7 linked regions of the Homo sapiens genome follow. The protein of the gene in region 5 purifies or fractionates together with the protein of the main gene of each other region. This does not show direct contact. Each region holds a gene or a part of one and is shown on either strand. Other genes may lie near its edges. The genes, in order: CISD1, MAP1B, TMEM169, YTHDC2, SLC20A2, IQSEC1 and PKP2.

Region 1 (4,545 bases), on a different chromosome or scaffold from region 5:
TACCAGTATGGTCGATAAGACCATTAGTTTATTATATTTTCTAGTACTAAGTGGCCTTCACTGCCTACTCGTCCAGTCTCTTATGATTCCTCCTCATATCCAAATAGATGACCTTTCTGAACATCATCCTGCTCCTTGATAACTCTAGCACTCATTGATCACTCTCACCCTTAACCCTTTCTCTTCTATTTGCAAGGAAGATGTTAACTCTTAGGCTGTTCTCTCTCCATGTCCTCCAGATGCCGTTTTCTTTTGCTTAAATCTTTGCCTCAGTGATATCTGTTGTTCGTAAATATTTAGTGCCTCATAAAGATTTTCTTCAGCCTTAAGTCACTCATAATTCACCCTCATCTTTAAAAAAAAAAAAAAGCCAACTATACCAGGTAATTTTGAAAGGCATCCCTTAACCTGCCTTCCCCTGAAATCACTTTTTTTTTTTTACTTTACCCTCAAGTTGCAACATAGGGATTTGTCTGTTCATCTTGTACTTCATTATCTATCCCAAACCCTGATCACTACAACGCTTGTAACCAAAATTACATTTCATAAATTCTTATTCTCTTTCATATTCTTGTGTATTTTATTGAAACTAATTTTCTAATTCATTTAACCACAACATAGGAAAATATTGTTTTGGTTCACTAAATTCACCAAGTCATTTAAAGTCATTATTTAAGGGTTTTTGTCTGAAAAGAAAGGTATGGATCATACTGAAAATAAAAGGGATAGCTCCTATAAGTTATAAACAATAAATGAAAAATAAGAGGGCTGGGTGCGGTGGCTCACGCCTGTAATCTCAGCACTTTGGGAGGCCAAGGCGGGCAGATCATGAGGTCAGGAGTTCGAGACCAGCTTGGACAACATGGTGAAACCCCCGTCTCTACTAAAAATACAAAAAATTAGCCAGGCATGGTGGCACGCATCTGTAGTCCCAGCTACTTGGGAGGCTGAGGCACGAGAATTGCTTGAACCCAGGAGGCAGAGGTTGCGGTGAGCTGAGATTGCACCACTGCACTCCAGCCTGGGCAACAGTGCGAGACTCCATCGCAAAAAAAAGAAAAATAAGGGGGGAGTTTGGAGCTATAGACTGGCCAAATTGATGGTGGTTAGAGCTAATTGAGGGTAAATGGGATTCATTATAGTATTCCCTGTGTGTGTCTGAAATGGTCCATAATAAAGTTTTTTTAAAACATAGCTTCTTATATATACCTGAAGTTTTTTGTTTGTTTGTTTGTTTGTTTTTAATATATGTATCAGGGAGTAAATTCCACACCCTGATACAGCAGGTTAAGAAGAAGGTAAAGATAAGTCATTTAGTATAAGAGCAATGCAGTGTAAGGATAGAAAAATTGCACATAGGAATTGCAAATTTAAATTAGTCATCCATTATTTCTTTTGACTCAACCAACATTATTGAATATCACTTATATGCCAGGCCTTGAGAAAAAAAAAAATTACCAGGCACGGCCTGCCAGCCTATGGGAGATCTAAGGGAGGGAAGGGTTTAAGCACAGCTCCCCTCCCCCTCTCCTCATAGAAGAGGAGAAACATTATGATTCTATGGCAGTTGATGGTGGGCTGGAGAGGGCAGTTTAGAGCAGAAAAGGGGCTAAGGTAAAAGAAGCCGAGAGAGATTTCTAAGTTAAAGCAAAATAATGCTCACAGTAAAAGAAAAAAAAAAAGCTGAAGATTGGGTTATATACAAGGCTGATGAGTTTGGGAACAAGTCCACGTTTTCTCTCTCTCTGAATAATTTTAAAGAGAAAACCAAAGATTATACAATAGTACTCCAATGGAAGAATAAGCAAATGGGAGGATTATTCAGAAATTATTGGAAGTGTTACCTTTCTCTACATTTGTGATCTTTAATGGTATTTGTGTAGATATAAAGCATGATTACACAAGGTCTGGTAGGGTGAGGTTTGACCTAACTACAGGAATTAACTGTCCTTGAGAAATGTCTATAGAAAAGAAAAGCGAGGGCTGGTCATGGTGGCTCATGCCTGTAATCCCAGCACTTTGGGAGGCCGAGGCAGGCGGATCACCTGAGGTCAGGAGTTCAAGACCGGCCTGGCCAACATGGTGAAACCCCATCTCTACTAAAATTACAAAAATTAGCCAGGTGTGGTGGTGGGCGCCTGTAATCCCAGCTACTTGGGAGGCTGAGGCAGGAGAATTGCTTGAACCCAGGAGCAGAGGTTGCAGTGAGCTGAGATTGTGCCATTGCACTCCAGCCTGGGCAACAGAGCAAGACTCCATCTCAAAAAAAAAGAAAAAAGAAAAAAGAATTGGGTCTCAGTAAAGTTCCTTGTTGCTTCTGAGATTATGACAATTCTTAATAGGCATATACCCATTTATCAGGGATTATTGGATGTTGCTATTTTTATTTGTTCAATTTCTCAGGTCTTCAGTTCTTTCTTTATCCTAATTGTTGATTTTTGGACCTGTCATCATTTTTGTCTATCTCTGTATAGTTTCCTTTTCCTTTAGAGTTGCCAGTGGCATCCACAGCTTTTTGCCAGAAAAGACTGATGATTCAGGCTACACTCATGAAGTGATAAAATAACAACTTTTTTTTTTTTTTTTTTTTTTTTTTACTTCTGGGAACTGTTGCATTTGTCCCTAATGAGATTACAGAATTAGAATTTGGGAAGGGAAAAAAAAAAAAGAAATGGAAATTGTTTTCTCAAGACCTTAGAGCAAATACAAAGCTATTTTCCTCGAACACATGGTACTGTGACATTGGCATAGGGTCATAAGTGGCCCTTGCTAGGGGTTGGGGGTAGAGCACAAAGTGTGTGTTTTGATTCCCCATGGGGCAGCTAGTCTTGGGTATCTGGAGTCAGTTTCCATTTCTTTCAATGATGCCTTTGGTGTTACCCCTTTTCCATGTCAGTTATTCTGTCCTGTCTCCCACCATCACAAAATCCAAGGGAGGTAAAGCTTAAAAAAAAAAGTGACCTGTGGGTGCAGTTGGCAAATTACATGAGAAAAAAGAATGCAAGAAGAATGGGATTTAATGACTAGGAGAGATTATTTTCACTTATCATGATGAGTTTCATGTAGAAATTCCTATAGTATTCTCTTTTTAGGTCATGAAACAAATTAACCAATACTAACCAATTGTAGTTCTTTGGATCTCAGGACTGTTTGCAATATGCAGGTGCCATCAAACAAATATGTTATGAAGTACTTTATAATTCACCTAAAAAGTAAAGTGTAACTAAAATCGACAGCATTAAGGAAGTTGCGTTATTTTAGTCTTTTGGGATATTGCCCCCCTTTAAGTTTGTACTAAAGATGATGTTCAGCAAATGTTGTGGTGCATATACTATGCAAAGCAGCATTTTCGCCCATTTTGTGATAGGTACATTAGCTATTCAGAGTGGCTTTCCATTAGCTAAGAAGTGGATTGCTACAGCTCCTGGCATAGGAAATGTTTTCTCAAGAAAGTTCCATGGTAAATAACATTAGAAAGGAAGATCATGAATCTAGCCAGAAGTCATAGCAAAATTGTAGACCTGCTTGGAATAACCACAGGGTAATACCATGAAGCAGCACTAAAGTTGGAGATAAATCTACACATAATGTGTACCTACTTAAAAAATGTCTTCTGATGAGGCCAAAGGTTTGAAGCTGTCAGGTGATATATTAACTTAACTTGTCTTCTCAGTCATGCAGGACCTGGGAAAGACGAAACATTAGTGTTTATTAGGGAATTATAGCAAGAAAGAATGATAATGCTACGGGAAGGAAAACAGTATAAATTAATTTGTTAAGAAAAATACTACCGTGGTTGAAAATAAAATCCAAGGAACACATTAATTAGAAAGTGAGGATAAACCGGAAGAGGCAGAAATTATGCTCTCTTACGAGATGAGCAAAATGCAGGAATAAGTTAGATAAAGTCTAAATTATTAAATAAACTAGAAAAGAAGACCAAGATACAAGAGACTGAGAATGATCCTTTATATTACAGTTTTAGAAGATTAAGCTCCAGTTTTATGTAAGGTACTATTAGGTATGGTGAAATAAGAAATTTGACTCAATAGTGCAAGTAAACTATACAACTAATTATTAATTATGTGTTTTTATTTGGCCTTGGGATGTGTTTTTTTGTACTTGTCTGTCTAGGGTTTTATTTGATAGTCTGGGAACTTATTTCAAACACTGAAGATCTGACTCAGGAAGTGCTGGGAAGGAGTCCAGTGTGTTTATCCTGACCCCTGTTCAACTTCTTCCTGCAGCCCACTCCATGCTGGGAATAGACAACTCTCCTCTGAGGCTGAGGCTAACCAGATTATGCAGAACTTTCTTCTCTCCAACATTGCCTGGAGCTGGGGTAGTTGTTAAGTCCTTGGGTTTCTAAAGACTTGAAAAGCTGCTTGAAAAGAATAACTAGATGGCTTGTTAGTCAGTTTTTTTATTATTAGAAAGCAGAATAATGCCATTAAATTTAAAATAAATTTTATAGAAAATTAAAATATATTTAGAATTTATTAAATGAGAATATAACTATACTTATATAATCATGTTTTCTACAAA
Region 2 (4,545 bases), on a different chromosome or scaffold from region 5:
GGACACGCCTGGGTTACCCAGATCAAGAAACAGACATTACTGGAACCCCAGAAGCCCCCTTGTGTTCCCTTTGCAATAGACATCATGGCTTCCTGATTTTTTAATTCCCTAATTTGGTCAGGTTTTTGCATGGAACTCCGAAATGACTGTATTGATCCCATTAAGAATCAACCAAGTGAGTGAGCAGAGCCGTTTCTTTACACACCGTAGCAGATGCTGCTTTTCCTCTGAAGATGGCTCTCCTGGGTTCTGGGGTCTTGGCTGCAGCTCAAGATGCAGGCCCTTCCAGCGCTAAGTGAAAATCCTGCTCCCATAGCTTTTCAGACAGTCTGAGATGACTTAGCAACAGAGCAGGCTGGTCCTGTTTTCCTGTGCACGACAAGCTGCTGCTTCAGCCGCCAGGTCTCAGCTGGGCCTCCTCCAGAGGCCACTGCTGTTGTTGCTTGGTGCCTTTGGGCCTTGTTGTGTGAAGCAAGATGGAGCTGCTCCAGGGGGGCCAGCTCTGATGATTGTGTGTTGCAGGCTGGGAAGGCAGTTCCGCATCTGTTACTCTTTCTTCCTATTTCCCCTCCTGCCTTAACTGAGATTCTGGGTTTGGAGACCCTGGCGACTTGGATTCTTGCCATCCGATTACTGAGGGCTCTCTGGGAAGCCTAGAAAATAATCTATAAATCTGTAGAGACATGGTGGTAATGCAGTAAATCAACAGGCCTGGAACGTCCCAATGTGGATGCTTCGTAAATGCCTCTTGAAACCAGGGAAGAGAGATGGTCCCTCTTGCTTTCTCAACTATATTCGGAAAGCATAATGAAAGCTTTGGACATGTCTCCTCCAGAGTTTGGAACAATAGTGTTTCCTCGGACTAGGCTAGCTTCATTTATTTAGTTATGCAGGACTTTATTCCAAATCGTTTTCGCTACCACCAACTACTACTCTTTGGCACCTCCTTTTTCTCCTCCCTAATTAGCCCCCAGCATGGATTTAGCTAGTGGTTCTCATTTTCAGCAAAACCCTGCTTCTTGGTTTTATTTTAATACATAGAGGACATACATCCGTGTCTTGCAAACTGAATTCTAGAGCCTTGTGAACGTTTTCATTGTTTCATTTTTTTTTTAAGGAACTAAAACATATAAAGAATATTAAGTGTCTGTTGGATGTTTTCAATTACCGTTAGATTATAACTTTTCCTTTAGTTAACACTGGGAATCAGCAAGATTTGTTGGTGAAAAGATAGATGAATGTAACATCTACTGCTCTGCATTTTTAGATAAAAGTTTAGCTGATTACATTGTTACATTCTGATGTCACTTAACTGAATGTCCTTCAGTCTAAGATGGTAAGAGAATTTAAAACCCAGGAAAGATTTGGGGTTTAGTTTTCCTTTTCTTTTAACAGGGGAAATAAGAAACCAATACCATATGTGGTGAGAATTAAATGTTAGAGAGTCTTAAATTTACTATATTTGCCTATACTTTTCAAAGTCGAAGACAGATGGATTTCTGCTTGCACTGCTTAATTGGTATTATCTACGACAGCTCTGTGATCCATGCTGAAACACAAGGCAGTCCCCAAATTTAAGGTCATTAAATTGTTCACCTTCTCTAAGGGCTTACTTTAAAAAAATAAGTTATAACTTTTTAGACAAGCAAATAATTATGTCACTTCTCATTTGCTTGTGTTGTAAGATGTTATCTCAGACCTAAATTATTTATTATCAATGCTTTGAAACTATGAGCTCTGTATGTAAGATATTATCGTCATTACATACATATGTTATGAACATCAAGTTGCTGGCTTTAAAAAAAGAAAAAAAGCAAATTAAAGATGAGTTCAAGGGAAAAAATAAGAATTTTTTCCTCTGAGAAATAAAGCATTCCTAAATGTAGCATTTCCTTTAGTTCATTTATTTAGTTTATGATTTCAATCTGATTTCAGACCACTTTTTAGCATAGTTTTACAAATATAATCTTATGATTCTAGGTTAATGATTTAGGTACTTGGAAAAAATATCCAAAAGCCTGTTTTTCAGAGGGAGCAACTAAAGCCCATAAAGGAAAATCAACTTGCCAAAGGCCCAAATAACTGTCAGATAGAACCCATGTGCCATCAACATACAATGCATGGTCATTTCATTTTGCTTTCTTCAATCCACTGTCACCTTTAGAAATATGAATTTTAGCTTTTAAATGGGAGGTGCTTTTTTAAATTGTTGGTTTCATTAAACAACCCTGCAAAATGCTTACATGATTGGAAAACTTGGAACAATCTAGCCTGTACACACCAAGAGTACCTGACTTCTCCTCATTTTTCACCCTGACTTGTTCTTTAATGACCCCTCCCTGCCTCCCTGCCCCATAACCTATTCTTTTCTCCTTTTCTCATCTGTGTATATCATGTGCATGTCAGCCTCCCTTGTGTGCACTGCTACCACCTGGGGTCAGAGAACTGAGAAGGAAAGATCTTTTGTTGCTCCCTGGTCCCAAGGAGCTCACTTTCAGGGCTGGGCAATAGCCACAGAGCAGGCCCAGATTGTTCTCAGAGATGACGGATGCCTTTTGGCTCCAGACATTGAAAGAATGGGGTTCACTGCCTCCAACTGCCTGGAGTTATTCTGCCCCCACCTGGGTAAGCCCAGAAGGGGTACAGTCTTAGAATGCTGGGGAAACAAAGCCTCCAGGAAGAGCTTGACTTGGTGTATATTGGGGTGAAAATTAGAAAGAGGGCTTCCCTGCTCCCCAACAGAGACCAGGATGACTTGCTTCTGAAAGCCTCTTTAGAACCTCTTCACCAACACCCCAGGATGCCCTCCAGCCAGATTCAGAGAGGGGAGAATATGGGAAGGGCCAAAGAGATATTTTTCTGTCCTGTAAACTTTAGAGGGCTCACTGTTGGCTCCTTGTTAGGCACAAAGGGGAACTACATAAACCTACTAAATGCAATATGAACCTTCATTAACAACTACTCTTTGCCTTTACCAATATTATCCAGCAGGAGATACAAAGTAATTACAAATTATTTTATTTCTAAAATTGGTATGGAAAGTGGCCTGATTCCAAAATTTTCCTTTCCAACTAAAATAGCTGGCAAATCCAACATAACCTTTATTTTATAAGTGGTAGTAGTGGTTGTGCATTGCTAAGAAACAATTTGGGTGGAAATTGCTCTCTTGAAAAAAGAACCCTACATTTTTAGTTTCATTGGGAGTGTAAAAATGAGAAATATTTTTATCAGCCGTTTACTAGTATAATTTAGAAATTACTAAGTGGATTTATCATTTAGTACTTTTTCTATTGCTAAATTACAAATATGTCAAAAATAAAATATGTATGAAAATATAAAGCAAACATTTAATTGTGTGTGCCATGACAAGTTAACTGAAGCCAAGGGAAAATGGCAAGTAACAATGTAAGAGCAAGTCTGCAGATAACCCTGGATGAAGTCATTCAAATAATGTACCAATTTAGACATTACTTAGAACAAAGACAGAAAAATTGTATGAATTTAATTTAAATGCATATGTCTCATTATTAACTTATTGACCCAGCTTGACAGGGTAGAAGACAAAGTAGAGCTCAGACCTGGAACAAGGAGAATTCAGTCAACAATACCAATTAAGCAGCTCAGACAGGAACTCGATTTTTTTGCACTAGACTAGTATATAGTGTATACATTGAAGTAAAATATTCTAATGAATTCAGACCTCTCAACCTGTCAAGCTCTCTGTGAAACAAAAAGAACCCATTTATCATTTCTGCACTAAAAAGATCTGCGAAATCTCAACATGCCTTTCTTGTTAAAATTCAAATACTCCATTAGCACAAATGCAAACTGAGGCTATTAATGTTTCCAGGAAGAGCCATAAAATTCTCCCTTATAATTTGACCTTTCCTTAAGCACGTTAACTCTTCCACATCTGAATTCTTCCCATTGATCATATGAGAAATTTCTGCCTGTATTTAGTGGACACACATCTATTTGAAAATATTCCTCCTGGTTGAAAAGGTCTGTGGTGTGTAATCTAAAGATATTTTAGATGTGCAGTGAACTGAGTTTCCAGAATCTTTTTTTTTTGTAATGTCTATGTATAATCCACCTTGATTCTTTACAGGATAGGAAGACTGAATACAATATAACCAAGGGTAAATACAAATATGCCTTAAGGATCCAGTGTGTATTTAAGTAACACACTGCTATTTATTCCTTCAAGTCTGTATACATGACTAATGTCCAACAAAAATGATTACATGACTGGGTGTTAATTTAGAGATAGTTCACCTGCTGTGTTATACCTAGAGGTTCAAGCCCTTACCTTTAGGAGGTATGCAATAAATGTCTGTTGTTCTAGAGATTTGTTCCTGGCAATTGAGAATGCTGTATACAAAGGTACAATGATGGATACCACACACTGGCTCCACCATGAGCAACCTATTAGGAAAAATGTAATATATAATATGTAAACATGTAAAACACACACACACACCAGAGTTCTGGGGTTCCCCAACTTTCCCTGGCTTACTCTCCAGACCTCCCTTCTATGATGCTCTC
Region 3 (4,545 bases), on a different chromosome or scaffold from region 5:
ATGGTACCACTTCATAGGGCTTGAAGTCTAGTAGAAGAGCTATGCAATAAATAAGTAAAAGAAAAATAAATAATGACAAATGTTGGTAAGCCTTACACAGGAAACAAGCTGTTGTGATAAAGAATAATGAGAGGCAGAGCAGGGAGTCAAGTTTTTAGTTCGGGTGTCAAGAAGGGCTCAGAGGAGGAAACATTTGAACAAGGACTCAAAAAAACAAAAACGGGCACAGGAAGAGGCGGGGTGGAGCAGCAGAGCAGCAAGATAGACAGCAGTTAAGAAGACCTCAAGCATTTGGAAGCATTTGGTGCTCTTGAGGAAGAAATACACAGCCAGTGTGATTGGAGCATAGTACCCCTACTATGGTGGTACAGATGGGGTGGCAGGATGGGGAGGTCCTTAGGCCACATGGACTTCCACATGTATAACAGTAGGAAGTTACAGGAGGATTTTAAGCAGAAAACAGCCTGATTTTCTTTTTTATTTTTATTTATTTATTTGACATGGAGTCTGGCTCTGTATCCCAGGCTGGAGTGCAGTGGCAGCGATCTCGGCTCACTGCAGCCTCTGCCTCCCAGGTTCAAACAATTCTCCTGCCTCAGCCTTCCGAGAAGCTGAGACGACAGGTGCGCGCTGCCACGCCTGACCATCTGATTTTCTTTATGTTTTAAAAAGATGTTTCTGGCTGGGTGGCTCATGCCTGGAATCCCAGCACTTTGGGAGGTGAAACCCCATCTCTACTAAAAATACAAAAATTAGCCGGGTGTGGTGGCACACGCCTGTAATCTCATCTACTCGGTAGGAGAATCAGGTGGGGGAGGTGGGGGTTGCAGGAAGCTGAGATTGTGCCACTGCAGTCCAGCCTGGGTGACAGAGTGAGACTCTGTCTCAAAAAATTAAAAAAATTAAGTAAAAGATGTTGCTTACTGCTGAGTGAGGAATTGATTGGAAGGCAGCAAGAGTGGAAGCTGGAAGATAGGAGCATTTTTTTTAGAACCACAGTTAAGAGACAGTGGCCTCCTAGACCAGAGGGGAAGCAGTGGAGATGGGAAAGTTGGGTGGATGAATTTAAGAATTATCTGGGCCGGGAGCAGTGGCTCACGCCTGTAATCCCAGCACTTTGGGAGGCCAAGGCGGGCGGATCACCTGAGGTTGGGAGTTCGAGACCAGCCTGACCAACATGGAGAAACCCCTTCTCTACTAAAAAATACAAAATTAACTGGGCATGGTTGTGCATGCCTGTAATCCCAGCTTCTCAGAAGGCTGAGGCAGGAGAATCGCTTAAACCCAGGAGGCAGAAGTTGTGGTGAGCTGAGATCACGCCATTGCACTCCAGCCAAGGCAACAAGAGTGAAACTCCATCTCAAAAAAAAAAAACAAAAACAAAAAAAGAATTATCTGGATAATTTTTTTCAAGAGTGGCTTAAAAGCAGTTATTCTAAGCACGAGTTCCAGAGTATGAGCATGTTCTTAAAAACCTGTTTTCCCTCCTACAATGACCAAGAGTACAGAGCTAATGGTTGATTGAAGCTAACACTCTGTAATATCACATTTGTAAGAATCTTTTTTTTTTTCTGAGGCAGAGTCTCACTCTGTTGCCCCGGCTGGAGTGCGGTGGTGTGATCTTGGCTCACTGCAACCTCTGCCTCCCGGGTTCAAGCGATTCTCCTACCTCAGCCTCCGGAGTAGCTGAGATTACAGGTGTGTGCCACCATGCCTGGCTAATTTTTGTATTTTTAGTAGAGGGGGTTTCACCATGTTGGCCAAGTTGGTCTCAAACTCCTGATCTCAAGTGATCCACCTGCCTCGGCCTCCCTAAGTGCTGGAATTACAGGCATGAGCCACCGTGACCAGCCTGTTAATAATCTTTAGACTGGAAGTGGAAGTGGAAGATGGGCACAGCTTAACTGCCAGAGAAAAGAACAAAGTCCTCTCTCTTCTCTCAAGTCTATTGATTAAAGCCTTGGAAATTGGGTAAAATTTTCTTTTAACCTCTCTCTTGTGAAATCTAAAAGGAAGGAGAAATGTTTAGAACCTGCTTCTCAGATCAAATACTTACAGCATAATAAAGTATACAAAAATGGGGAAGAGAATCAAGCCTTTCTTTCTTAACAGTTGTTTATGTCATATTTCTGGTAAGACATTTTCTCTTCTGTGTCCTATGAAGTCAACAAGTACATACTGACTTTGTACTACATGTCCAGCCCTGGGGTTTTCCCATTGGTGGTTAAGAAGAAGAGTAAGACAGTTCCTAAACTCTAGAAGTTTGTTATCTACCTAGAAAGATGAATGAAAACTCATGATGCCATCTATAATCTATACAATGATATGAAATGCTGCATAATTAAGTATTAAGTGTATGGTTCAGATGGCAAATGCTATTAAATTACAAATAGAAGGAGGCAAAAGAAAGGGAATAGAAACTAATATTTATGAAGTGTCAGTCACATATTAGGCATTTTATACTGGGCCATTCATTGAATTCTCACCACACACCTGCAACACAGGGTTAGGGTGGGAGGAGAGGACGTGGGGGCTGGGGTAGTCACAGAAGGGGACGTGAGCGAATGAGTCTGTCTTGAGCCAGGCTTGAAAGATGTGGAGAAGCGTGACAAAGATGAAGAAACCAACATAAGCACATGTGTTGAGTAGTCACGTTGCAGGAAAGGGAAGGGGAAAATTGCTACTGAATCCTAGGGTGGGGTGCAAATACGGAGAGCCTCAAACACCAGACAGGCCTTCAGATATATTTTAGTCAGTAATGGCAAGACAAAATAAAAATATTGTTTTGTTTTGTTTATTAATCACCATTAATATGGTAAAAAATGGTAGAGGAATGTCTTCCATTTTAGAATGTCTTCCAGTTTAGAGGAAGTAGTATGAAGGCTGTATTCTGGCATATGGTGGTAGTAGAAATTCAAATGAACAAATTAACAAAAAGATTTCATAGGAATGACTAGCAGGACTTAGAGACTAATTATTATTAGGTATATGGAAATATGTCCTTAATATAGGAAATGGGTTCATCAAAGAACATTCTAGAAGTTTATAGATCTTTGCATAAATGTTGGCGGGTAGTATGGCACAATGAAAATAACATGGGCTTTGAAATTAGCAAACCTGGGTGTCAGTTCCAGTCCCACCACTATACTAGCTATGTAAGCTTGAGCAAATTTCTCCTCTAAATGGGAATAATAAAGGTACCTACTTCACTGGTTTGCTGTGAATATTGAACAATACGATTATTGTAAAGTACTTAGAGCAGCACTTGGCACACAATAAACATCCAATAAGTTTCTGTTGTTACTATTATTCAGTCCAAGTGTCCTCTTCTGCAAAATAATACTTGCTTCATAAAATTGTTGTACCTAGGCTGGTATGGTGGCTCACACCTGTAATCCCAGCACTTTGGGAGGCCGAGGCAGATGGATCACTTGAGGTCAGGAGTTGGAGACTAGCCTGGCCAACATGGTGAAACCCTGTCTGTACTAAAAGTACAAAAATTAATTGCACATGGTGGTGTATGCCTGTGGTCCCAGCTACTCAGGAGGCAGAGGCACGAAAATCGCTTGAACCTGGAGGCTGAGGTTGCAGTGAGCTGACATTGCACAACTGCACTCCAGCCTGGGTGACCAAGCGAGACTCTGTCTCAAAAAAAAAAAAAACAAACAGGCCGGGTGCAGTGGCTCACGCCTGTAATCCCAGCACTTTGGGAGACCGAGGCGGGCAGATCACAAGGTCAGGAGATCGAGACCATCCTGGCTAACACGGTGAAACCCCGTCTCTACTAAAAAAGAAATACAAAAAATTAGCCGGGCGTGGTGGTGGGCGCCTGTAGTCCCAGCTACTCAAGAGGCTGAGGCAGGAGAATGGCGTGAACCCGGGAGGCGGAGCTTGCAGTGGGCTGAGATCACGCCACTACACTCCAGCTTGGGCGACAGAGCGAGACTCCGTCTCAAAACAAACAAACAAACAGACAAAAATTGTTGTACCTAGAACAACTATGCAATATATAGCACATAGTGTTGCTTAATAAATATTTACTGAAGCTGGGCACAGTTGCACATGACTGTAGTCCCAGCTACTCAGGAGGCTGAGGTGAGAGGATTGCTTGAGCCTAGGAGTTCAAGTCAAGCCTGGGCAACATAGAAAGACCCCATCTCTAAAAATAAATGAATACGTAAATATTTTTTGAATGTGTAATTCAGTGAGATAATGCATGTACTGTATAATCAACACAGAACCTACCAAATTACACAATCGGTAAATTCCATAAATGTTGTGGTGTTTCCTTCTTTATCCCTTTCTCCTTTCCTTTCCCCCTTCTCCTTTTTTCTCGGTAACACTGAGAGGTTCTCTGCTGTAAATAAAGATGAGTTTGGTTTGAACATGCTTTGCTAAATAATTCAATTAGAAAATATTCGCCAGGCTATTGGAGATACAATCTTGAGATCTACATTTGGGCGTTCTTGGCATAGAAGTGGTCCTACAGCTGTGTGCAGGAAGGCTGTATATTTTAACAAGAGGAACAGAGTGTGCTGTTGAGAA
Region 4 (4,545 bases), on a different chromosome or scaffold from region 5:
ACCGAAGTGGCTACTGTGCATGGCAATGTACTATCTTAGACAGAAAGGAGCTGCACATAAAGAGAGCTCCAAAGGAAACACAGAGGGGTTCCCACAAGTTTTTGGCTAAGTGCTGACCTGAACATGAGTGAGAAAAAAGATAAATAACCCAAGGCTAGGGAAAGATCCAAAGGAAAACAAGTAGACCAAACAATTCCTAGAGCTCACTCATGGCTGGGAATATTTCGTGTTATCTTCAGCCAGAACAGATAGAACCTGTAATATATATGGTACTGGCCCACAGAAGGGCCATACCTTAGTATTGGAACTAAATTAATAACAGAATAAAGACTGCTCTGGCCCATTCCTAACATTACTTAAAAGCAAACTTCAAAAGGATTCAACTGATTGCAACTAAACTGTGCATCACAACAAAGTCTAACGCTATTGAAAGGAATATACAAAAACCTAGCTGCCCAACAAAATTATAAGAAACACAAAGAATATACAAAGGTTGTTATTTACATAATTAAGGCTGAAGAGAAGTTAAATACTGTTGTCATCTTGAGACTCTGATTGCAATGAGCAATCAGACACATTTACAAGTAGATTTTTACTAGCTCTTTACAAATCTGAACCCGTTTCTCATGTGCATATGGAATATAAAATTTGTACTTGCATTTTCTCCACAGACAAAGCACTGGATAACAAGAAGACAAAACAGAAAGAAAAGTAAAAGAAAAAAATGCCAAAAGTAATAAACAGAAACAGTCTCAGAGATGACAGAGTTGATGTAATTAGGAGACAAGAATGTTAAAGCATCTGTTATAAATACATTCATTATGTCCAAGAAGGTAGAGGAAAACTTGAACATAATGAGAGGAGAAATGGAAGATATTATTAACTTTTTTTAGGGGGACAGGGTCTCACTCTGTCATACAGGCTGGAATGCAGTGGCACAATCACAGCTCACTATAAAATCAAATTCCTGGGTTCATGTGATCCTCCTGCCTCAGCCTCCCCAGTAGCTAGGAATACAGGTGGCCCATCACCATGCCCAACTAATTTTTTTATTCTTTTGTAGAGATGATAGGGTCTTCCTATGTTGCCCAGGTTGTTCTCAAACTCCTAGCCTCAAGCTATCATCCCAACCTGGCCTCCTAAACCACTGGGATTACAGACATAAACCACGCCGGGCCAGAAGATATATATACATATATATATATATATATATATATTTTTTTTTTTTTTAATTTTTAAAAGACTTGAACTTCTAGAGATGAAAATACTGCCTTTAAAAACACATTAGAAGGAAAGAACAGCAGATTAGACACTAAATAAAAACATCAGTGAACGTACAGACAAAACAGTAGAACTATCTGAAATGAAGACAGAAAAATGACTGAAAAAAATGAAGAGAACATCGGTGACCTGTGGAACCATATGAGATGGTCTTACATCTGTGTATCCAGAGTCCCAGAAAGGAGGTTCTTCAGGCAGAAGTAAATAATACAAAATGGACATTCGTATTAACATAAAAGTATAATGAGCACAAGATTAGTAATAATAAATGTAAAAATATATTTTTCTGACTTTGAAATCTTCATAAAGGTAACTGACTATGTAAAGTAAAAACAATACATTATAGCATTTATATAAAAACAAAATGTATGAAAACAATATAACATAAAGGAGTAAAGTGTAAAATAAAAGAACACTGTTGGCCAGGCATGGTGGCTCACGCGTGCAATCCCAGCACTTTGGGAGGCAGAGGTGAGCAGATCACTTGAGATCAGGAGTTCGAGACCAGCCTGGCCAACATGGTGAAACCCTGTCTCTACTGAAAAATACAAAAACTTAGCCAGGCATGGTGGCACATGCCTGTAATCCCAGCTACTCAGGAGGCTGAGGAAGGAAAATGGCGTGAACCCAGGAGGCTGAGCTTGTAGTGAGCCGAGATCGCGCCACTGCACTCCAGCCTGGGTGGCAGAGTGAGACTCTGTCTCAAAAAAAAATAATATAAATAAATAAATAAATAAATAAATAAATGGCTTCATAAGTGAATTCTATCAAATATTCAAGGAAGAAATAATACCAATTCTACACATCTCTTCTAAAATACTGAAGTGGGACAAACACTTCCCAACTAATCTTATGAGGCCGGCATTACTCTGACATCAAAACCATACAAAGATACATAAGAAAAAAGAACTACAGAATAATACCCCTCATGAACAAAGATCCCTCATTTAACAAAATTATATCCAGCAATATATAAAAATAACACCATGACCAAGTGGGGTATAAACATAAGAAAATCAAGCAATGAAATTCACCATACTAACAGACAAAAAATGCTTTCCCCCTAAGATCAAGGGAAAGATATGTGGCTCTCAACACTGAACAATATTTTGCTGGAGGCTCTGGCCAGAGAGATAAGGTAAAAAAGAAATAAACAGCAATCAGATTGAAAAGGAAAAGAGTAAAATTATCTTTATTATCAGAAGGCATAAAAAGCTAATAGAATTAATAAATGAAATAAGGTCATAGGATTCAGGGCAGATATACAAATATCAAATGTATTTGTATATACTAACAATGAATACCTGCAATTAAAATTCTAAAGAACAGTATCAAAAACATTAAATACTTAGGGAGAAATTTAACAAAAAATTGTAATACTTGTACTCTGAAATTTATAAAACATTGTTGAGAGAAATTAAAGACTATCCAAATAATGAACAGATATACTATGCTTATGGATTAGAAGACTAAGAAGTGTTAATTGTTGATTTTCTTTAAATTGATCTATAGATTCAATGCAATTCCACTCAAAATACCAAAAAATTTTTCTGCAGAAACTGATAAGCTGACTTTAAAGTTTATATGAAAGTACAAAGGACCTGGAACAGCCAAAATAATATTGAAGAAGATAAACAAAGTTGAAGGACAATTGATTGAAGGATTAACTGATTTCAAGACTTACTATAAAGCTACTAAAATAATGTCAGTGTACCACTGGCAAATATATATATAATAATATGTCATAAATATTAATTATATTAATATATAAATATACTATATATTATGTATGTACAATATATTAATATATAAATACATAATATATATTACATATAAATACATTATATATATTATATGAATACATAATATATATTTATATATTATATATGAATACATAATATATATTTATATATTATATATGAATACATAATATATATTTATATATTATATATGAATACATAATATATATTTATATATTATATATGAATACATAATATATATTTATATATTATATATGAATACATAATATATATTTATATATTATATATGAATACATAATATATATTTATATATTATATATGAATACATAATATATATTTATATATTATATATGAATACATAATATATATTTATATATTATATATGAATACATAATATATATTTATATATTATATATGAATACATAATATATATTTATATATTATATATGAATACATAATATATATTTATATATTATATATGAATACATAATATATATTTATATATTATATATGAATACATAATATATATTTATATATTATATATGAATACATAATATATATTTATATATTATATATGAATACATAATATATATTTATATATTATATATGAATACATAATATATATTTATATATTATATATGAATACATAATATATATTTATATATTATATATGAATACATAATATATATTTATATATTATATATATATATAGAGAGAGAGAGAGAGAGAGATATTAATGAAACTGAAGAGTCCAATAAGTAGACCACATATTTATGGCCAGTTGATTTTTGACAAAGGTGTCAGTGTAACTCAATGGAAAAAAACAAATGGTTTTAACAAACGGTACTGGAACAATTGTATAAGCAAAAGCCAACGAGTAATTCTTGACTCACCCATACTATAAACGAAAATTAACTTAAAATAAATCATATATCTAAAATGTAAGATTGCCAACTATAAAACTTCTAAAAACATAGGAGAAAATTATGATCTTGGGTTTGGTACACAAAATTTCTTAGTACACAAAAAAATACTAATCATAATAGAAAAAGCTGATGAAATGGACTCCATCAAAATTAAAAACATTTGCTCTTCAAAAGGCACTGTTAAGGAAATGGAAAGACAAGCCACATACTGTTAGAAAAAATATGCAAAACATATAATAATTAAGCCTTGTACCCAGAATATACAGAAAACTCTTACAACTCAGTGAAAGATGACAAATCAACAAAAACCAACAACAAAAAGTGAACTAAGATTTGAACAGACATTTCACAAAGATGATACACAATGGCTAATAAGCACATGAAAAGATGCTCAACATCATTAGTAACTGGGAAAATACAAATTAAAACTATAATGGCCTATTACCACATACCCAACTGGAATGGCTAAAATTACAAAAGCTAAAATGCCAAATATTGTCAAGAATATGGAGCAAATGGAACTCTTAAGATTGTTAAAGGAAATGCAAAATAGTGCTGTCATTTTGGAAAACAGTTGG
Region 5 (4,545 bases):
GAGATTCCGTCTCAAAAAAAAAAAAAAAGATTTAATTTTGTCAGTGTTTTTCTTGATTTGTCCCATACTTTCAACACATCTAGTCAGATTTTCCTGACTAGAAAAATCTTAATTTCCACTTGATGGAATTAAATCTTAGATATCTATCACAACTAAAAAGGTGAATTTTACAAAGAACGGTTATTTTTCTAAGAGAAATTTCCATTATATCTGACTATGCTGAGATATACATATGTTCCATGAAGGTAAGTAAAATTCAATAATGACTATAGTTGTTGGAATGAAAGTGATCTTGAACCTGATTTTTTTTTTTTTTTTTTTGAGACAGGGTCTGGCTATGTCGCCCATGCTGGAGTGCAGTGGCACAATCACAACTCACTGCAGCCTCAACCTCCTGGGCTCAAGCAATCCTCCCACTTCAGCCTCCCAAGCAGCTAGGACTACAGGCATGTGCCACCATGCCCAGCTAATTTTTTAGTTTTTTTGTACAGACAGGGTCTCCCTATGTTGCCCAGACTGGTCTCAAACTCCTGGGATCAAGTGGTCTGCCCATCTCGGGGGCCTCCCAAAGTTGAACCTGACATCTTTACAACACAAAGCGTCAAGCTGAGAAGTAGGAGCTCCCTGGTGTGTGTTACTGGCCTACAGTGCTTGGTGAATATGCAATTCCTTAGTACAACAGGCTGCTTCTTATCAGACGCCTCGAACAACATGAGATTGGGCCATTGTGAACTTGGTCAATAATCTCTAAATTCCAGGTGTTTAAGAAATGTGACAGGCCAGGTGTGGTGGCTCACGCCTGTAATCCCAGCACTTTGAGAGGTGATGGTGGGTGGATTGCTTGAGGTCAGGAGTTCAAGACTAGCCTGGCCAACATGGTGAAACCCTGTCTCTACTAAAAATACAAAAATTAGCCAGGTGCGGTGGCACACGCCTTTAGTCTCAGCTACTCCGGAGGGTGAGGTGAGAGAATAGCTTGAACCCAGGAGGTGGAGGTGGCAGTGAGCGGAGATCACACTATTGCACTCCAGCCTGGGCCACAGAGCAAGACTCTGTCTCAAAAAAAAAAAAAAAAAGAAAAGAAAAAATGTAAGTGACAAAATAAAGAACTCGGGGGAATGTGGCTGTATTCTTAGTACACCAGCATCTTACCTCCTGCTGCAGGACTCTTCCTACAAGAGGATATGTCCTGTTGAAAGCAGAAGGTGGTAGAATTCCTCTCTAACCCTCTTCTCCCTAACCAAATTACCCGTATACATCAGCTGTCTGTTGTGTCGTCATCTCTACCTAGAGGCAAGCAGAAAAAGAATCCTGTCAGCTGCACTTAACACACGCCTGCCGGGAAGGTTCTTTTCTGTCGTAGCGAGGGCAGTGATGGGAAGACCCACGGGGCCGAGATCTGTGTCCGCTTAGGCCATGGGGACATCACTCTGTCCAACCAGCCACTCTGCTTATTCACACAGTTCACACACCTCCACACTTCATGTAGACAACTTGAAACTGCAATAAAAGGTCATGCTATCACCAGGCAACACGCACATTATTTTTTGGCCGGAAAACAAAACAAACATACCAAATGGAGCTCCCAGAGGTAGAATCAGAAAATCAAAACAAAAGCCAACAAAAGGATGACAAATAATGTAAGAGACCAGAATTTCTTGAAACACACGCACTTAAGATTTATTTGGTAACTTCTTTAGAACTTAAACTGTGAATATAAAAGTTAGACTAATAAATATTATTTTTGACATCCAAGTTTTCAAAACATTGCCTCCTAATTGATGAAAAACCTTAAGAAAAAAATCTAAATCAACCTTCCTGGAAATTTCATACATCAACCTTGAAAACACATTCACTTAGACAACCTTCAAACAACTCTAAAATAATAAAGCGCTGTTCTACAAAGGTCTTTTTCTGTACTTTCTGAAAAGTATTCACTTAGCTGAAATCTATTTTAGCAACCAAGTTTGCTCAAAAGTTCAGAAAATAAATGGTTGCCTGATATTTAAACACTTTAAAAATCATAAATTAATATGCAGAAAGCAAAAATAAGAGAGTAAATGTGAAACATCCAACCAGTTTTTGAAAAGCCAAAGCAAAAATCACATTTATGGATATGGGCAAAGTACTGCAGGGAAGCGGGTCAGTGGGCGGATGTCCCATCGGTATAGAGAAGAGGCTACTCACCAACCATGGCACTAACTTCCCCAGCCATGAGAGTCTCCACCGTCTCGTTGTACAGGTTCACGTCAATGATACCTTTGCGAATGGTTTCTCCTACTTTGGCGCCTAGTAACACGGAGCCGGTGGTTTCAAATATTGAAGCTAAAATGCATGCCTGCCTCAAGGTCACCACACCAGAGCCCACGGCTGTACCAAAGGAGTTGGCAACATCGTTTGCACCAACAGAAAAGGCCAAGATGAAAGCTATGATGAAACCCAAAATGACCATCCACAAATACTCATCCATGGCCATTTTGGAAAGTGGGTGCCGGGTACTTTTCTTTTGCAGGAATATTTTAAATAAACAAAGCTTGAGGTTATAAACTTCGTAAGGCCAAGAGTTCTTGTAAACAGTGAGTTTGCTCTGGAAAGTGCTGGACAATGTTAGAGGCTGGACAAACTGCTAGCTGCTGGTTTGCAAACTACTGTCAGGACAGTTCATTTGGTTGTGTTCAGTCAGCGGTAAAACACATTCCATATTTTTCCTCCCGATCTGGGAAAGCTGTGATGTCTCCTCCTGTAGCAGAAAGGAAACAAAAGAAATCAATTATACTCAGCAACCTGTAACAGTTTGTTCTTTCAGAAATAAATGTTTTAAGCCTGCTAATGGGATCTAACTTTGGCATGTGACGGACCTAACCATAAAGCAATTCAAGGAAGATTATAATTAGGATAACCACCCCCAACCAAAAACACAAAAAAACCTGCTTTCTAGAATTGTCAGGAGTTGAAGCATGCTTAATAATTACAGACTAATAGTAATCCTTACTAGGTTACATTTTTCATGCAATCGGAAAAACATATTTGGTCATTATTTTCAGAGAGGAACAAGTGCCTCAAATGAGCAAAAGATTAAGAAATGAGAAATTTAGTTGCATGGCTTTTCAAATATGTGGAATGTGTCCAGTTTCCTGGAACAGCAATAACCAAATCTGAGTCTGTGATACCACTGGGTGTGGCCAACGACCCACCTCCACATTTACGCATAAGCAATGAGCACAGTATATTATCATGCATGTGTCTGGGAGAGTTTACAGGCCTGGCGAGAGGTCACTCATCTGGAGGGTGACCAAGGCAGGAACTGACAGGCCCCAGAGAGGAAAAGAGAAGCCTGGAGAATGAGGCAATCCTATCACTACGCCACTATCCCATCTCACTAGGAGGAAAAGCTAGAGGCCCCGCCAGGGTCAGGAAGACCCTTCAGGCCTCCTCGCAGCTCACTGGCCTTAGCTCCTCTCCCCTCCCTCACAATGCCCTGGTGTCACTGTCCCCTTGCAATCCCTTAGAAAGACCAGGCACACTCTCACCTCAGGGCTTTTGTACCTGAGGATCCCTCTGCAGGAAGAATCTTCCCCCACAGCTGCACAGCTCCCTCCTCCCTGCATTCAGGTCCCTGCTCAAATATCACCGTTAAGAGAGGACTTCCCTGACCCCAGAAGGAGCAGCCCCTCCCCCATGCCACTGTTCCTGCTTCTGGGAGGGAGAGGAGATGCCATGAGATACATCCATGAAATAAAAATGTCACTGCAAGCTTCGTAATTATGGTATTCTATTATTGGAGAGCCAAGGCACTGTATATTTTCTTTGAATGGTATCAAGCATATAAATGCTTATTGAGTTGAACTGAATAAATACCACACCATATACAATATAATAATTTGACCCATCAATAAGGTTATTTAAAGGGAAAAATCAGGACACACAATTTTATGTACACTGTGATTATGGCAATGTTGAAAATGCATATAAAAGGCCGGGTGTAGTGGCTCACGCCTATAATCTCAGAACTCTGGGAGGCCGAGGTGGGTGAATCACTTGAGGTCAGGAGTTCGAGACTAGCCTGGCCAACATGGTGAAACCCCATCTCTACTAAAACTACAAAAATTTGCTGGGCCTGGTGGCAGATGCTTGTAATCCCAGCCACTTGGGAGGCTGAGGCAGGAGAATCGCTTGAACCTGGGAGGCAGAGGTTGCAGTGAGCCAAGATCATGCCACTGCACTCCAGCCTGGGCGACACAGCGAGACTCCATCTCAAAAATAAAAAATAAAAATAATAATGCATAAAAATACCCAGGGGTATATACTAAAATTATAATAGAGGTTGAATAGGAAGGTTAGAGACAATTTTTTCCTTTCCTCCCCAAACTGTATACTGTGGTTACATGCTTTTTAAATGAAAATAATATATAATAAACAAATCTACAAACATATTGAGCATCATCGATGTGCAATGCTATAGGCACACAATGAAACAGAAAATATACATTGATAGTTGTTATCATTTCTAAGATTTTTCAGCCTTTGCAATTTTGGAGATTCAGA
Region 6 (4,545 bases), on a different chromosome or scaffold from region 5:
CAGATGCTGGCCTGGCACCAACTCCCCTGGGCTGGTGGTTCCTGACACACATCCGGGGAGCCAGGGGCAGACGACAGTTTTCCCAGGAGGTCAAACTAGGGTGATGAATGGCGCAGTGGGACCTGGCCACCTCAAAGCCAGTGCCTGAGCTGGCTCCCTGCTCCGTCTGCCCCCTGTTCTCTCTTCTTCTAGACTGGGGGAGATGGTGCTTTTGAGCCATTCCTGGGACACATGGAAGCACTATCTTGGGATGTCAGAGAGGCCTGTCTCAGGAAGAGCCTCTGGGGAATGGTGCATTCACTTGGGGCCAGTAAGGGGCAATGGCTTACTGGTTTGCTCAGCTAAGAACAAAGAGTCTTGGACATCTCACATCTACCAGGATGCTCTCTCCTGAGCCTGTGATCTGCCTGTGGCTTGCTGCAGAGTACGGCTGCTCTCACTGCTGCACAGGCCACGGCCGGAGCAATGCGCTGGACAGGGGAGGGTTGCATCCTGCTGGCCCACCTGACACGGTCCCTGAAGTCTGTCCCCACTGCTCCTGGGCACAGCCGAGCTCCAGGATCATCTCTCGACCCAGGCCCATGTGCCCTAGAGGGGAGGCTGGGATAACCAGGGGTCCCTGCAGAGTGGACAGGTGGAGGCCAGCAGTGGGGAGACAGGAAACCAGGAAAAACCACCTCCCTCAACCAGCCAGCTTTGGTCTGTGTAGATTCTTTCTTATTCAGTTAACTTTTAATTATCTGTGTAGCACGTGAATACATTCTTCACAGAAAATGCATGCCTTGCAGCTCAGGATAACATCCTCTTGGACTCAGCATGTTGCAGTCTCTCCTTCCAGATTTTTTTCCTGTGCATTTGTGTGCACTTCTAGGAACTCTAGACAGCCATGGTTAAGAACACAGCTTGGGGCTTGCTTGCCTGGCTTTAAATCCTGGCTGTGCCCCATCGTATCTCTATGTCCTTGGGCAGCATAACCCCCCGTCCCACAGTGGCCGCATCTGTGAAATGGCTGATGCCAGGGGCACCCTCCTCCCAGGGCGGTGAGGGTAAAGCGTTGGTCTGTGTGAAGTGCTGAAAGCAGGACGTGGCACAGGATAGGGCCTTACTATGTATTAGCTGCTACTGTTGGATCCTTGCTGACATCACTCAGGGCGCGGGACTGTGACATTGTCTTATGAGGGTATCGCTGGGCTCTACACACAGGCTGTCTTGCTCCTGTGTGCTGCTGAGTGGTAGTCCCCGCCGTGGCTATAGGTTATTTGGCCAGTTGCTTCTAGCTTTTCATAACTAGCACTAGTGTGACAGTGGTTGTGATCCTTACACACACACCTGGCAGGCCTCTAGATCATATGGCTGGAAGTGGAATTGCTGGGTCTTAGCTAGGCACGTTTTTAGTTGAAGGAGGAACTGCCCTTTCCCTTCCCTTTCTTTGGCCCTGCGCCTGTGTACCACCTCCACTTCTCTCCCTGCGGGGTGGTATGTCCCGGCCTTTGCCCGGCCTCCAGCACAGCTCTCAGTTCCCACCCCTTCCTAGCAACGAAGCAGTGAGCGTTCCTGGCACAGGCCTCTGTCTGGGGGGACGCCCCCTTTAAGGGAATCATGTACCAAAGTGGGAGAGCCAGCAGCAAGCGGGGAGGAAGAACAGAAACGAAGCCTGAGAAAGTGGTGTAGGTTGGTGGGGAGGGCATCCCGGGGGCTGCCGAGGTCTACCAGGCCTCCAGATGTTCCTCTGGGCATCTGCCGCTTACTCCCAGCTGGCCCAGCTGACAGCCACACAGCTGATCTGGCTGGCGGTGCTGCGGGAGGGCAGGGGTGCAGGAGCCAGAGGCAGGAGGGTTTCAGTCCTGGATCTGCCACCTATCAGCTGTGGGACCTGGGGCAACTCCCTGAACTCTCTGAGCCTCACTGCCTGCACCCGGAACATGTTTGTGCAGTGGATGGCAGCTGTTGTGGTCAGCAAGGGCTTCTGTGTCCAGAGTGCCAAGGGAAGGGAGCTTCCAGGGCTGGGCTTTAGGAAGACCCAAACAGGCATTGTGATGGGCCAAGCAGTCAGAAATAACGAGAATAGCTAATCCTTCCATGTGCTGACGGTGCGCCAGGCATGGTTCCCAGGGCCTGTCACGCGCTAACGCACGTTACCCTGTGCAGTGGGTGAGCTGAGTCTCACATAGTTGGTAGACGACTAGGGACGTCACACCCTGGCCACTTGGCTCCTGAACACATCCTCTTAAAATCCATGATGTAGGAACTGCTACCACAGGTATCCCTGGGCTCCCTACCTCCTCACTGGGTGACAGATCTGTAAACTGAGTCCAGGAGGCAGAGCCACACCATCTGTGGGACGCCATGCAGCCCTGCAGCACATGGAGCTGGGGCAGGTGCCCAGCAGGGACCTCACTGAGTCTGTCACCTCCGCATTGGAACCCCACCCCAGCGTCTCCTGCTCCTGTACCTGGTACACACCGTCAGGGGTACATGCCTGGCTATGTCCACTTTCTGTCTGTCACATTCCTCCCTGGAATGAGCCCAGGTGACCATGTCACAGGTGAGCCACACCAGACCTCTCCCACCTCTGCAAGAGCATCCTTGGCCCCAGAGCTGCTTCATGATGACACGGGCACCCTCAAAAAGGAGTGAGAAGCTTGTCTCTGAGAAACATGTACGCAGGGCTTGGGTGGCCACCTGGTGTGACAGTGTGGTTGGACTACTTGGCTAAGAGCTTTCCACAGGGGCCTCTGAGGCCCTTCCAGCACAGGGCCCTGTACCTGGAGGCAGCCCCCTTCTGTGGACCTGGCCTCCCCTACACTCGGCGCCCAGCCCCTGGGGCCCAGCAGCCTCGGGTCCCATCCACCTGCTGGAGCTACTGCAGAAGGGAGGCAGGGGATGCTGTCACTGGGATCCTGCAGGGAGCGTGGCTGTTTCACCCTTCCAGCGCCCCCAGGGGGCCATTCCCCTCCACCTGTGGGAACAGGGCTCAGAGAGTACCCCTGATCTGCATGCTCCAGCTCTGTGCTCCTTGTGTTTAACGTGTCTGCTGTCATTGATAAAAATAGCAGTGAGCAGAGCCGGCCTGTGCAGAGCCTGGACCAAGCGCCAGGCCCCATGCCGAACACCTTCCGCCTATTGTCTCACTGATTCGCCACAGCCATCCTGGGAAGCGTAGGTGCAGGCAGCGAGGCTGAGAGCCCAGGCCCAAGCTCAAGGCCACACACCAGAAGTGCTGGGCCCAGAGGATGTGCAGTGCTGCTCCCGTAGCCTGTGGTGCTGATGATGGAAAGGATGGGCTCTCTTAGGAGCACTTTGAGCTGGGTCTTTGGAGGTTGGGACCCCTCTCCCCTAGACACAGGCCACTGTGGCCTGTGGCCCTTGATGCTACCCGCAGCCCAGGATCCCGAGCCCTGGCCTGGGTCTGAGGTGGCTGGTGCTGAGTCTTGGAGAAGAAGACAGTGCCAAGGGAAGCCCTGCAGGGGGTGCTTGCCACACTTCAGAGGGTGATTCTCCTGCCTTCTCTCTGGGATCAATACCAGGGAAGCCACTTGGGTTCACGCTACCAGAAAGTGCGTGTAAAAGTCAGAGCTGGTGGAGCAGGCAGCCTCCGGAGGTGGCGAGCTTGCTGGCCCTGGCAGTGTGGGAAAGGCTGGAAGTGGCACCTCTCTGCAGGACCCTAGGTTGCTGCATTGGAAGGGCATTTTCAGGTGTGCAGGGACTCTCCGAATGCTGAAGTTGGTGAGTCTATCCTCACCCCCACAAGCAGTTAACAGTTACCAGGGCTCAGACCTCTGACCACGGAGATCCTCGGGCACTCCAAACCCTGTGTTGGTCTCTGCGTTAATCATGGCCTTCTCTGTTGCATGTGACAGGAACTCTATCAAACTGGGTTAAGCAAAGAGGCTTTACTGGTTCACGGACCTGAAAAGTCCCGGGTATTTCTTGGCTCCATCTGGCTTAGGGTTGGCCCTGCCCCTTGCCAGATCCTCCCTGACCCAGGGCAGGAGGGCCATCAGAGAACCCCAGGCCTGTAGTCTGACCTCAAGGCAACCCCAGTAGGAGGAAGAGAGATTCTCCTCCCCTCATCGGCTCCTTCTGGCTCTTGTGCCTCTCCCTGAACCACTTGGGCAAGCAGGATGCAGGGCTCTGACTGGCCTGGAGCAGAGAGTAGAATCTGCCCACTAGGTCTTAGGGCCTGAGCTGGAGGGTAGGCTGGGAAACCTGGGGGCTGAAGCTAGGTGCTTGGGCATCCATCCACTTCCACATCTCTTAGGCATCCTGAACAGTTAAAAAGGACTGGAGCCAAGCACAATGGCACATGCCTGTGGTCCCAGCTGCTTGGGAGGCTGAGGCGGGAGGATCACTTGAAACTAGGAGTTTGAGGCCAGTCTAGACAACATAGTGAGACCTGGGTCTTAAAAGAGAGAGAGAGAACCCTTTCCTGGATCCTGCACACCCCTGCTGGGAAAATACCAGGGTAAGCACTCAGTGCTTTGCTCCAGCAGGTAGGTGTTCCCCACGTGCAATCCACAGCCTTGCAGCAGCTCTTCCTCAGAG
Region 7 (4,545 bases), on a different chromosome or scaffold from region 5:
AACCTGTTGTGTGTCTTTTCTTTTCTTTTTTTTTTTTTTTTGTTTCGCTCTTGTTGCCCAGGCTGGAGTGCGGTGGTACGATCTCGGCTCACTGCAACCTCTGCCTCCCGAGTTCAAGCGATTTTCCTGCCTCAGCCTCCCGAGTAGCTGGGATTACAGGCACCCGCCACCAAGCCCAGCTAATTTTTTGTATTTTTAGTAGAGACAGGGTTTCACCATGTTGGCCAGGATGGTCTCGAACTCCTGACCTCAGGTGATCCGCCCACCTCTGCCTCCCAAAGTGCTGGGATCTCAGGCGTGAGCCACCGCACCCGGCCTGTGTATCTTTTCTATAATGCCATTTCTGGTAATTGGATATTGGACATAAAAACAGTTGTAATGTTCTTAAAGTGTTTAAAGACAAAAGCTTGAGAGCTCAATATGTAGATTTAAATAAAAATGGACAGTTGGAAAAAAAGAAACTTAAGCATTTGAAAACACAACCTGCCATTACTATTAAAATAATTCACATATTTATATTCTTGGAATAATCAGCTTTAGACTTAATAACATTCGTTAACCTAAGCAGTCATAATCAAAGTTCTGCAATTCCTTGATTTCCAGAATTTGTGGATGAAAACCTTCATTAGAAGCTTAATGGATTATTTTTTCTGAATCTCTCAGTAAGCTATTTATGGGGTGGGTGTGGGTGAGCATCAAGCTTATTGGATCTTGATTACTCTTTTTCATTGAAGAATGAAAACAAATGGGAACTTTTCTTGACAGATAATATGAATTTATAGGCCACCAAAATATTACAGATAAATACACAAGCCATACAGATAAAAGAATGATAGTAAACATATATTATTCAAATATAGAAACAACCTTGCCAAAATGAACAAAGTCAGCTTTTCTTTTTTTTTTTTTTTTTTTTTTTGAGATGGAGTCTCGCTCTATGCCCAGGCTGGAGTGCGGTGGCACAATCTCGGCTCACTGCAACCTCCGTCTCCTCGGGTTCAAGCGATTCTCCTGCCTCAGCCTCTCAAGTAAGTGGGATTACAGGTGTGTGCCACCACACCCGGCTAATTTTTGTATTTTTAGTAGAGATGGAGTTTCACCATGTTAGCCAGGATGGTCTCGATCTCCTGACCGATCCACCCGCCTCGGCCTCCCAAAGTGCTGGGATTACAGGCATGAGCCACTGCACCTGGCCCAAAGTCTGCTTTTCTAATAAAAGTCTGCCTACATTCTGGGGAAGCAACTTTCCTTCCTCTCCGTATACCCAGAATGACAGAGAACAGTCGAAACTATTTGAGCACCTTCCATCTACCCCAAGACAAAAGCATGTATGTGACTATCATACTCACATTTTAGTTCCATTCTGGTGAGCCACAGAATACATACCTGCCTGAATGATTAAGCGCAAACTGAATTTGTGTAACTAGGATATTTCTAATGTACAGGTAATCTGACTAATCAACAATTAACTTGTCAAGTACTGATACAAGACTGTGCTAGAAGTGGTAGTGTAAGATACAGTTCTTTCTGTCAAAATCTCTTTGGAAGAGAAAATAACCTCTTTGTTTTAACGTGGCCCCACTCCAATCCATTCTCCACACAGCTGCTAGAGTGAACTTTCTAAAATCTCATTGCATCATTTCCCAGTTTAAATTCCTTCAGTTTCTTACTGTTATCTGCAAGAGTAAAATTATTGAACACAGCATTCCAAGTTCTTCGTGATCTAATGCCTGCAACTTCTCAAACTTCATCCCTGGGGCCACTACCCTTGCTCCCCACCAAACACACACAGGCAGTTTATCTTGCTTGGTATTTCTACCCCTCCTTGTCTCCCTCCCTTCCTTCTCTTGCCCAGTTAACTTAGTTCAGTTGTGTCCCTTATAGGCAGCCTCCTTCACCCCTCTCCTCTGATCTTGAATGCAAGTTAAAGAATTTGATAATTGTGAGTCACAGATATTTCCACAGGGAAGAAACATGAAAAGTGCAGGAGTTTTGTGAAAATACATTTGACAGATTTGGTGGATTTAAAGTAGGAACAGACCTAGCATGGTGGCTCTTTCCTGTAATCCCAGCACTTTGAGAGGCCGAGACAGGAGAATCGCCTGAGGCCAGGAGTTCAAGGCTGCAGTGAGCTCTGAATGCACCACTGCACGCCAGCCTGGGCAACAGAGTGACCCTGTCTCAAAAAAAAAAAAAAAAGAGGCCGGGCGCAGTGGCTCACGCCTGTAATCCCAGCACTTTGGGAGGCTGAGGCGGGTGGATCATCTGAGGTCGGGAGTTTGAGACTAGCCTGATCAACATGGAGAAACCCTGTCTCTACTAAAAGTACAGAAAAAATAAGCTGGGCGTGGTGGCGCATGCCTGTAATCCCAGCTACTTGGGAGGCTGAGGCAGGAGAATCACTTGAACCCGGGAAGTGGAGGTTGCGGTGAGCCGAGATCGTGCCATTGCACTCCAGCCTGGGCAACAAGAGTGAAAATCTGTCTCAAAAAAAAAAAAAGAAAAAGAAAAGTTGGGTTAGCAGTTATGAATCAGTTGGGAGGGGTTAACCCTGGCACGTGAGAGGCAGGGGAAATATAATGACTTGAAAGTCATTACAAAGAAAACCTGTAGTAAGTATTTTAAAGCAAAAAATAATTTGTGAGTTCTATAAATTCACCTTTTTTTATATTATTGGGAGTATAATGTGATATTTGCCATGGAAGTTATAAAGTCTTACAAGTCTTAAAGTCTCATGAGATATCTCAGCAAATAATTGGCAGGAATGCCAAAGTAAAGACACAGTTACAGAAATGAACAGTGTATTCATTCATTCATTCATGAGACAGCGTCTGTCTCTGTTGCCCAGGCTGGAGTGCATCTTGGCTCACTGCAACCTCTGCCCCCCGGGCTCAAGCCATTCTCTCACCTCAGCCTCCTGAGTAGTTGGGACTACAGGTGTACGCCACCACACCCAGCTAATTTTTGTATTTTTTTTGTACAGATGGGGTTTTGCCTTTTTGCCCAGGCTGGTCTCAAATTCCTGGACTCAAGTGATCTGCCCACCTTGACCTCCCAAAGTGCTGGGATTACAGGCATGAGCCACCGTGCCTGGCTGAGAAATGAACAGATTTAGATACTTCCAGGATATTTCTATTTAATACTTCACCAGGATGCTAAATTACCAGTTTATAATAACAAATTCTACAATTACATATTCTAATACCTCAAACAAAATATGACATGAACACCTGTGATATAAAAGGGCCATTTAATGGCTCACGCCTAAAGCGCTGGCACTTTGGGAGCCCGAGGCGGGTAGAACTCTTGAGGCCAGGAGTTTGAGGCCAGCCTGGCCAACATGGCAAAACCCCATCTCTACTAAAAATACAAAAATTAGTCAGCATGGTGGCACACACCTGTAGTCCAGCTACTCGGAAGGCTGAGGCACAAGAATCGCTTGATCCTGAGAGGAAGAGGTTTCAGTGAGCCAAGATCGCACCGCTGCACTTCAGCCTGGGCGACAGAGCAAGACTCCATCTCAATAAAAAAAGTGGGAGGGGGACATTTAAAATGTGTTTTTGTCATTACCTAGAGCAGTGATTTGAGGATTGCCCCCCAAATGTCATAAATTGGTATATCAGAAGATAGCTCTTGAATTGCTTAGGGGGCTCCTGAAAAATAAGGACTCTAGTGGCTGGTATATCGTGTGAGTGATAACAGCAATGGATTAGTCAGTCGCACACTGGCATGTGGTATGTGTGGCCCACTCTTGCAGGAGAGCTGTTCTGTCCCTGGCATATTCAACGTTTTAAGAACTCATAGCCAGTACTTTCTAGCATATACCTGATACACCAAGTTGTTTCTCATGGTTGATTATGTGAGCTAACTGGTCACAAAATATAGCACTGTACAACTATTGGTTAAATTTTCAATAGTATAAAACTTTATTAGACTTTCATCTGCTTTGAAACAATTTTTCACCATAGTGTTCCCTTTTTTTTTTTCCTTTTTGAGACAGAGTCTTGCTTTCTGTCACCCAGCCTGGAGTGCAGTGGCCCAACCTCAGCTAACTGCAACTTCTGTCTCCAGGGCTCAAGCAATCCACCCACCTCAGCTTCCCAAGTAGCTGGGACTACAGGCCCATGCCACCATGCCCAGCTAATTTTTAAATTTTTAAAATTTTGTAGAGACGAGATCTCACTATATTGCCCAGGCTGGTCTCAAACTCTTGGACTCGAGTGATCCACCCACCTCAGCCTCCCCAAGTGCTAGGATTGCTAGTGTGAGCCACCCTGCCCAGCCAACTATAGTTTTCTAAACCAACAAATTCTACTTATTTTCCAGCCTAAGCAAATGCTTACTTGGGCTGTTGTGATTTCCATCAATATCTGGTTGTTCTTCTTGGAAAGTAAGAATAGAAGATAAAATATAGTTTTAAAAAATATGTAAGTCCAAGGAAATGAATCGTATGTTTTATGCCAACACAGACAGACAAAAAACAAAAAAAATTCCTTCACCAACTCAGGAGTGCGGACATACGTATGGTCTTTGATGAGTCTCAGT

The links.
Region 1: the proteins of SLC20A2 (region 5) and CISD1 purify together in Homo sapiens (affinity purification with mass spectrometry; one large-scale study listed by BioGRID and IntAct). This does not show direct contact.
Region 2: the proteins of SLC20A2 (region 5) and MAP1B purify together in Homo sapiens (affinity purification with mass spectrometry; one large-scale study listed by BioGRID and IntAct). This does not show direct contact.
Region 3: the proteins of SLC20A2 (region 5) and TMEM169 purify together in Homo sapiens (co-immunoprecipitation; one large-scale study listed by IntAct). This does not show direct contact.
Region 4: the proteins of SLC20A2 (region 5) and YTHDC2 purify together in Homo sapiens (affinity purification with mass spectrometry; one large-scale study listed by BioGRID and IntAct). This does not show direct contact.
Region 6: the proteins of SLC20A2 (region 5) and IQSEC1 purify together in Homo sapiens (affinity purification with mass spectrometry; one large-scale study listed by BioGRID and IntAct). This does not show direct contact.
Region 7: the proteins of SLC20A2 (region 5) and PKP2 purify together in Homo sapiens (affinity purification with mass spectrometry; one large-scale study listed by BioGRID and IntAct). This does not show direct contact.

What each region holds. Positions count from the first base shown.
Region 1 is NC_000010.11:58,271,871-58,276,415, forward strand, and holds part of CISD1 (CDGSH iron-sulfur domain-containing protein 1), read left to right. Parts: intron 1-4,545.
Region 2 is NC_000005.10:72,110,156-72,114,700, forward strand, and holds part of MAP1B (microtubule-associated protein 1B), read left to right. Parts: exon of another isoform or gene 1-3,332; intron 3,333-4,545. UniProt on the Homo sapiens protein: Facilitates tyrosination of alpha-tubulin in neuronal microtubules. Phosphorylated MAP1B is required for proper microtubule dynamics and plays a role in the cytoskeletal changes that accompany neuronal differentiation and neurite extension.
Region 3 is NC_000002.12:216,084,510-216,089,054, forward strand, and holds part of TMEM169 (transmembrane protein 169), read left to right. Parts: intron 1-4,545.
Region 4 is NC_000005.10:113,586,081-113,590,625, reverse strand, and holds part of YTHDC2 (3'-5' RNA helicase YTHDC2), read right to left. Parts: intron 1-4,545. UniProt on the Homo sapiens protein: 3'-5' RNA helicase that plays a key role in the male and female germline by promoting transition from mitotic to meiotic divisions in stem cells.
Region 5 is NC_000008.11:42,469,915-42,474,459, forward strand, and holds part of SLC20A2 (sodium-dependent phosphate transporter 2), read right to left. Parts: intron 2,741-4,545; 5' UTR 2,477-2,740; coding exon 2,188-2,476; intron 1,288-2,187; exon of another isoform or gene 1,153-1,287; intron 1-1,152. UniProt on the Homo sapiens protein: Sodium-phosphate symporter which preferentially transports the monovalent form of phosphate with a stoichiometry of two sodium ions per phosphate ion.
Region 6 is NC_000003.12:12,930,057-12,934,601, reverse strand, and holds part of IQSEC1 (IQ motif and SEC7 domain-containing protein 1), read left to right. Parts: intron 1-4,545. UniProt on the Homo sapiens protein: Guanine nucleotide exchange factor for ARF1 and ARF6. Guanine nucleotide exchange factor activity is enhanced by lipid binding. Accelerates GTP binding by ARFs of all three classes.
Region 7 is NC_000012.12:32,886,449-32,890,993, reverse strand, and holds part of PKP2 (plakophilin-2), read left to right. Parts: intron 1-4,545. UniProt on the Homo sapiens protein: A component of desmosome cell-cell junctions which are required for positive regulation of cellular adhesion.